Linked DNA regions of Homo sapiens. The main gene of each other region encodes a partner of the protein of the gene in region 2 in a complex. Each region holds a gene or a part of one and is shown on either strand. Other genes may lie near its edges. The genes, in order: GNAI1 and APLNR. A codon is read from its position in the direction of its gene.

Region 1 (3,629 bases), on a different chromosome or scaffold from region 2:
GACTGCAGATGAAACTGGTGAAGTGGCAACATACAGGAAAAAGAAGAGGAGGAGAAGGGTAACACAGGAGCAGACAGACAGGAGATAAATCAAGTGAGTTGTTTAGGGGCTACACAGGGTTCTTCCACAGCCACAGGAAATTGAGAGTTGCGGCTGAAGCAAGAAGCAACTGAATCAATACTTTGGGCATGCCATGGAGATCTTAAACAATAATCTTAACTCTGGGGATGTGAAAGAATTATGTAATATTCTTTTTGTGCAAAGATTCTGAAGTCAGGTATTCTTATTAACTTAAGCAAAACACAAGCAAAAATTCCTAAACACACTGTCTACTTGGCAAGGAAAGAGCTAACAAGTATATTCTTAGTTGCTCTAAAATCCCCGTAGGTATACAATATTTATGGATTCACTTGGGGAATCTGGTACTATGAATTAGTACAAAATGGCTACATCATAGAATATGATAAAAATAAACTGAAAAATATATTCAAATAAGGGAAAAATTAAGCCATCTTGACTCTGGGTAGCTTATTTCTAATAAGCACAAAAAAATGTTGCTGAATACAGTGATTTAGGACTTTGACTTTCAAAAAGAAAGCAAAGTTTTAAAGTAAGTAAATGTGTGAAATTAGTTTGAACTGAAGTGTAATTTCACCGTACACAAAAAGAGCTATAAGTAACATGATTATATTTACCAAAGAACCCTCCCCTTTTGGTTCCACTGAATGTTTAATTAAATGTAGCCTAGTCGTTCATGGTCTAGGAGCAGGAGGACAATGGACTTGGGTCTGGAACTGGACTCTGGCTTCAGGAAGCCCCGGTATTCTCATTTGTATGGGTAGGGATACCTGAGCACTGACATCACAGGGTTGTCTTAACATTTCCTGTAAAATGGCAGTGAATACTCATCGTACAATTTACTCAACACAAGACTGAGGAAAATTCTGTTTATAAAAAAACAAATTCTTGAGACTTTTAAAAAAAAAAACAGGAAGAGTGGGGTGAGGGTAAATAACTAAACTCTTCAAACTATCTAGATTTGGAGATTACATAAACCAGTGGTAATCAAACTCCCTGTTTTTTTAAGGCATACTGAATGCTCTTCACTAAAGTAAAACTTTACTCAATACATAAACCAGATGAAAGCTGAGTTACTCTGCTTTAATGAAAAAGTTATAAGGTGGTGGGTGCAGGGGGCAGTAATTAGCTCTGTTCCCTCTCCCATTTCCGCCTTCAACAGCAACCCAGGAGGTGCTCCAAGGAACTAAATTAAACTAAAACTAATGTTTTAGCCCAACTCCTGACTTCACAGATGGAATACTGAGACCTAGGTGAACTAACTGCCTTGTTCAAGATCAAAGAGCTAATTATGGAAAAGTCAGGACTGTACTTCAGGTCTACTTTCCTCACTCCAGGGAATTTTCCATCATAGTAAAATTAAAGCACTATTAACAGTCTCATTACCAAAGTTTTGGCTTCTTGTGAAACCTTCCCTGCCCTTCTGGAAGAGTTAGCTGCCTCAATGATCCTGTCTTCATTTCCCCTTACTATAATGTTCATGTTCCTTATTTTAGCAGTAGGTTGCACTGCTATTGCCTGTTGTTTAAGTATGTCTGTCTTTCAGATTAGATGGTGGGCAGAGACATGTCTTATTTATTGTACATCACACAGTACCTGATATGAAATCTGTTAACTGGATTTAAAAAATAGTATTTTAACTTGGAGTCATCACTAAAAATTATCTAACTGCTTTTCCATAAAATGAATACATTATTTTCAGTAATTTCATCTACATCTTAAGGAAATTTTTATGCTCAACTGCAGTTTGATAAATAATACCCCTTAAAGGTCTAAGAATCACTAAGCCAAGAGATTTAAATTAACAACTGAATTCTTGCCTTAGGGGAAGTTTCACTTAGAAATATGTAACTTGACAAGTTATTCCCAGAAAAGGAAAATACCTGCATATTCTGGATAGCATATAGTGAGAGGGCTCTTTTTGATTTTTTCTTCAAAGAGATCCTTCTTGTTTAGAAAAAGTATAATGGATGTATCTGTAAACCACTTGTTGTTACATATGCTGTCAAACAATTTCATGCTTTCATGCATTCGGTTCTGTAATAGAAAAAAATAAAACCAATCGTCACTAACAGCAAGGATTTTTGAGGACTATTTTAAAAAATAAAAGGTGTTGTAATAAAACAGAGTTTAGTGATTGAAAAATACGTATCACAAAAATACATTTCTGCCATTTCAGAACACACTTTCACTTTAGGTAAGAGAAGTGTCTAATCATCTTTCACCACTTTTTGCATTCAACTTTTACTTGCCAAGTGCCCACTATATGTCATGCTCTGTGCCAGGGAATATCCTGCTACAGGACATTATAATCTAGGGATGTGAAGTGTGAACATGTGAAAAGAAATGACATTGTCATAGAGTTCATTTCATCTAAATTTCCATTAGAAGATAAATAGAGGTTTTTAAAGATTAATAACTTAAATTGAACAAGCTAAGACCCAATTAGCCCAATACTCTAAATATTATAATAAATATAAATACTGGAAGGACACTTCCAATTCCTGTTTCTTGACCTTCCAGGATCTGTGCTCATCAAAGAGGGCACTGATACATTTTATAGTGCTGAAATGAAAGAAATGAACATGTGGTGTTGCACTGCACCTACTACACTATAATTTCATATACTTGATTTTAAAAATACAATCGTCTCTCGGTATACTCAGGGGGATTAGTACAAAGACCTCCAAGGGTACCAAAATGTGCATACACTCAAGTCCAGCAGGCAGTTCTGTGGAACCCACACATAGGAAAAAGTGGCTTTCTGTATACTCAGGTTTTGCATCCCATGAATGTGCTTGGTTGAAAAAAATTTTCATATATGTGGACCCATGCAGCTTAAACCCGTTGTTCAAGGGTCAACTGAACAAAACCGACATTTCTACTTTTTCCCCCACTTTGTAATAAAGTTAACTTAAAATGACAAAGTTTTACATTTCTATTTAAAAACATTTCCCCCATATTAATGGTACACTGAAACCTATCTGAAAATTACAGGGCAGCAACAAAGCATAACATATATTAAAGATTTACCGGCTGGGTGCGGTGGCTCAGGCCTGTAATCCCAGCACTTTGGGAGGCCGAGATGGGTGGCTCATCTGAGGTCAGGAGTTTCTGACCAACCTGGCCAACATGGTGAAACCCCATTTCTACTAAAAATACAAAAATCAGCTGGGTGTGGTGGCACGTGCCTGTAATCCCAGCTACTTGGGAGGCTGAGGCAGGAGAACTGGCTTGAACCTGGGAGGTGGAGGTTGCAGTGAGCAGAGATGGTGCCACTGCACTCCAGTCTGGCAACAGGGCGAGACTCCGTCTCAAAAAAAAAAAAAAAAAGATTTACTAAACTAACAGAAGTAACAAATTAAGAAAAGGGAATCTTGGACTACTATGTAACTATATTTCCATGTGCTATGTTGATATTAGATACAGAAATGCATAGTTAAGCTTACAGGCTTGAGGTGAGATTGACTCTCCATGTTTTCCTTTTCCTCAAGATCCACCTGTGCTTCTCTAGTATATCTCTCTTTTATCAAATAGAAAAGTTAGAGGAA
Region 2 (4,137 bases):
GGCGCCAGCTGCTTTGGGGAGGGATCTCCCTACAGGAAGCCTGGTGCAAACATTAACTTCGCTCCTAAAGCACGGACCAGCCGTTGGAGCCCCCAAATCCAGTAGGGGGTGGACTCATTTTTATTCTACATTTTTCATTGCCTCAGTGTGTCCCTGCCCCCCACCACCCCCTGCCAAGGGTAATGTGTGAACAGCAGAGTTGCAGTGGATTGGGGGGTGGGAGGAGGTTTGTCCAAATGACCCAGGCACACTGCTGTTCATGCCAGGCTCATCCATATAGACATATAAGTACAACACACACAGACAAGAGGCAGGCATCTCCATCCCAAACAACATGATTCTTGGCACCAAGTAGCACCAGTGCCCAAGAAAGAAATCAGTATGATGGGGTAAGATGGGGAGATGAGGAAACCCTTCAGCTCACAGTTATGCAGGAAGTCAGAAACAGGAGGACTCGGGGAGCGAGCCAAGCAGTGTCTGGACTAAATGCAGACACCCCTCCATCCTCTCTCTCTAGTTGCCCTTCCCAACTCCCCACTCACATAATGAAACCAAGGAGTACATCCATTCATCAGCCCTGCTGCCTTCCAATTCTCATAGAAAATAGAGGAAGGATGAAAGGGTCTGCGGACAATTTGGAGAAAGCATATCTAGTCAGTGTCATGGTGCCATGGGGGAACTGCAGGAATCACACTAGCCCCAATGCCCAAAATGACAGGGAAGTGATCCAATTTTAGGGCAAGCTCTGGAGCTCCCAGATCTAAGGGCTGGAGCACTAATTATCTGCTGACACACAGCCCACCCCCGGCCCCAGCCCATTCCCTGCCTCACACTCAGAAAACAGGATAGAAAGCTTAAACAGGGTCAGTCTCTGCAAGCTTTGGGATCCTTAACCCTTAGTAGCCCTTCAGAACAAGAAAGTAGACAGGGGAGAAGGATGGATGGAGGGAGGGGGACGAGCTGTAGGAGGGGATTGGTGCCAGAAGGCAGGGATAAGGAGCGGCAGCTGCAGAGAGTGGTGGGGGAAAAACTACAAGGAAAGAAGGGAGGAAAGACGATTGCAGATCTAAGAAAGCAGCAGAGGGAAACAAGCTTTTACTGCGTCCAGACTCAGGCTTCAACATTTTAGGATCAATATGACTTTCCCCCATTTCATACCAATGGAGAAACTGAGGCTGAGTGAGATTAAATGGCTTGTGCAGGGTCAGGTCTGTAGAGCCCAGTCTCTTTCCCCTAAACCACAAACCTCTGAGAAAGAATAAAGCAGTAGAGGAGGACAGGGCGGGGCAGAATCAGGGGACAGTTAAAGGATGTGCATAGGACAAGGAGTAGCCACACTACCTGATTTTCAGAAAGCAAGGGCAAAGGCCGGGGAGGGCCGAGGGCGCCAGGCTTCTCTCTGCTCCCAGCCCTAGTCAACCACAAGGGTCTCCTGGCTGTAGGGGATGGATTTCTCGTGCATCTGTTCTCCACCCTTGCCCATGTTGGGGCCGGGCCCCTGGCTGTGCCCCGAAGAGTAGCTGGCTGACTTCTCCCCACTGCTGCTGTGGGAGGTGCCTGCGCACCTGCTCTGGCCACAGCAGAGCATGGAGGTGCAGGCCTGGCGGAAGCGGGGGTCGAAAAAGGCATAGAGGAAGGGGTTGAGGCAGCTGTTGACGTAGCTGATGCAGGTGCAGTAGGGGAAGATGTTCATGAGGAAGAGGTCAAAGTCACAGGGCCAGTGCAGCAGGCTGCCCAGCATGTACAGCGTCTTCACCAGGTGGTAGGGCATCCAGCACAGGGCAAAGGTCACCACCAGCACCACGATGATGCTGAGCAGCCGGCGCCGCTTCCGCAGGCCCTCGATGCGTTCCTTGCGGAAGTGGCCAGCGATGGTTTGGGCGATGAAGAAGTAACAGGTCAGCATGATGGTGAAGGGCACCACAAAGCCCACGGTGGTGGACGAGACCCCAAGGCCCACCTCCCAGGCCCACTCTGAGCTCACAGTGGCCACCATGGAGTAGTCCATGTAGCACTGCACCTTAGTGGTGTTCTCCAAGTCCCCGGTGGTGCGTAACACCATGACAGGCATGGCCAGGAGGGCGGCCAGCACCCAAAGAACTGCCGTGGCCACGGCCCCGCTGACCCGCAGCCTCAGCCGAGCATTGGCCACTGGCCTCACGATGGCCAGGTAGCGGTCGAAGCTGAGGCCGGTGAGGCAGAAGACGCTGGCGTACATGTTGACGAAGATGAGGTAGCTGCTGAGCTTGCAGAAGAAGGTCCCAAAGGGCCAGTCATAGTCCCGGTACGTGTAGGTAGCCCACAGGGGCAGCGTCACCACGAAGGTCAGGTCAGCCACCGCCAGGCTAGCAATGAAGATATCAGCTGAGCGCCTCTTCTCCCGGCTGCTCCGAAACACGGTCCAGAGCACCAGACCGTTGCCCGTGGTGCCCAGGAGGAAGACCAACATGTAGATGGCAGGGATGAGGGCCCCCGAGGATTTCCAGTCTGTGTACTCACACTCAGACTGGTTGTCTGCCCCATAGTAGTTGTCAAAATCACCACCTTCCTCCATGCTGGGGAGTGGAGAGAAGACGGGCAGAGGGTCCCAGGGACACCAGCTCCGTGGCTCTGTCACCCACTCTGCAAGCAGCCTGAATTTCTGGCTTGAGCCTCAGAGAGTAAGAAGGGCTGAAGATGCCCAGAGTCCTTCCCAGCACTCAGGAGGAGCTGCCTCTGGGTTCTCCAGACCCTGGAGGAAGCCTGTCTCCTGCAGAATTTCCTCCACCCTCTCTTGCCTTACCCCCGTCTCAGTTAAGACACTTCCTTGCACCCTCCTGCGTCCCTGTCTCCTCCTTGACTCGTCACTCCCTCCTCCCACCTCCAGACCAGCCCCTCTCTTGTGAGTCAAAATCTTTAGTGACAGCCCACTTTTTTTTTCTTTTTGTCACTGAGCAAGTGGACCAAATTGACCCCTACTGTGCTGGGCTGAACATTATCTGTGGTTTTGCAAGTCGGCTTTCCTGGCCCCGCCTCTCCTTTCTGGCTGCCACCCACCTTCACCCCAGCCCCTATCCCTCCACTTTCCTCTGGCCACCACTTCCTGCCTGCCCTTTAGGGCACTCCCTCCTCAGTGCTCTCCGCCCTCCTGTTCTCACCCCCTTCCATCCAATCTAAATGGGACACATTATGCAGATTGCAATCCAGCTTGAGCTGGAGCCAGGGCTGGTAGGGAGCAAGGAGGGTGTAAGATTTCGCAGGATGGGCAGGGCATCTGGCAGGTCCTCCTGGCAGGCAGGTCTGGCCCCCTCGGCTCCCTTCCTGCACCCCCAGCCCCCACCCAGACCAGGTGTCACAGGAGGGTCTTCTCCCACTTTGCCTCTCGCTTCATCTTTCTCTACCCCTTGGCTTTGACCCTCCCTCTGAGAACTTTTGTGGTTTCTAGAGAAATACCCCTACACTAGTGTAGACTGCAGTTTGCAGTTTGCGGAAGGCACAGGATGCTTTAGAAGGTTGAGGGCAGTCACAGGATGGAAGAAACCCAGGACAAAATTATCTCTAAACAAGTCATTAAATCTGTAGGAAACAAAGGCCCAACAAGGTCAATGTTTTGCCCAAGGTAATAAAGTGAATTATGCTACAGTTGATTGTTTGCTTTTCTTCTTCTCCAAACACGAACATAATACAGTACCTGGCATGTCGTAGGTGAATGGCTGTTTTGTTTGTTTGTTTGTTTGTTGAGACAGAGTTTCACTCTTGTTGCCCAGGCTGGTCTAGGCTCACTGCAACTTCTGCCTCCTGGGTTCAAGCGATTCTCCCGCCTCAGCCTCCCTAGTAGCTGGGATTGCAGGCTAATTTTTTTGTATTTTTAGTAGAGATGGGGATTGACCAGGCTAGTCTCAAACTCCTGACCTCAGATGATCCACCCACCTCGGCCTCCCAAAGTGCTGAAATTACAGGCATGAGCCACCACGCCCAGCCAGGTGAATGGCTGTTGAGTGAGTAAGTGGATGGATGATGTAGGAGGTGAGTGAAAAGGGGAATCCATAGATGGAAGAACAAGTGTAAGAATTACTACGTGGTGAGAACATGGATACATTTCAGTTCTCAGGTTTTTACTATCCTCCATGGACCAAGAGGTTTCTGTAAGACCACAGG

What was found.
Region 1: the proteins of APLNR (region 2) and GNAI1 are in contact, whole or in part, in a cryo-EM structure (PDB 8XZF), measured with the Homo sapiens proteins. Residues at the interface, in NP_005152.1 of Homo sapiens: Arg62 (codon at 2,371), Ser63 (codon at 2,368), Ala64 (codon at 2,365), Asp126 (codon at 2,179), Arg127 (codon at 2,176), Ala130 (codon at 2,167), Ile131 (codon at 2,164), Val132 (codon at 2,161), Pro134 (codon at 2,155), Val135 (codon at 2,152), Ala136 (codon at 2,149), Ala138 (codon at 2,143), Arg139 (codon at 2,140), Arg141 (codon at 2,134), Leu142 (codon at 2,131), Ile224 (codon at 1,885), Ile228 (codon at 1,873), His231 (codon at 1,864), Phe232 (codon at 1,861), Arg236 (codon at 1,849), Glu238 (codon at 1,843), Arg245 (codon at 1,822), Leu246 (codon at 1,819), Ile249 (codon at 1,810), Ile250 (codon at 1,807), Phe312 (codon at 1,621), Asp313 (codon at 1,618), Pro314 (codon at 1,615), Arg315 (codon at 1,612); in NP_002060.4 of Homo sapiens: Glu28, Arg32, Asp193, Leu194, Glu308, Lys314, Asp315, Asp341, Ile343, Ile344, Lys345, Asn347, Leu348, Lys349, Asp350, Cys351, Gly352, Leu353, Phe354.

What each region holds. Positions count from the first base shown.
Region 1 is NC_000007.14:80,211,202-80,214,830, reverse strand, and holds part of GNAI1 (guanine nucleotide-binding protein G(i) subunit alpha-1), read right to left. Parts: intron 2,116-3,629; coding exon 1,962-2,115; intron 1-1,961. UniProt on the Homo sapiens protein: Guanine nucleotide-binding proteins (G proteins) function as transducers downstream of G protein-coupled receptors (GPCRs) in numerous signaling cascades.
Region 2 is NC_000011.10:57,234,451-57,238,587, forward strand, and holds the start of APLNR (apelin receptor), read right to left. Parts: upstream 2,801-4,137; 5' UTR 2,555-2,800; coding exon 1,412-2,554; 3' UTR 1-1,411. UniProt on the Homo sapiens protein: G protein-coupled receptor for peptide hormones apelin (APLN) and apelin receptor early endogenous ligand (APELA/ELA), that plays a role in the regulation of normal cardiovascular function and fluid homeostasis.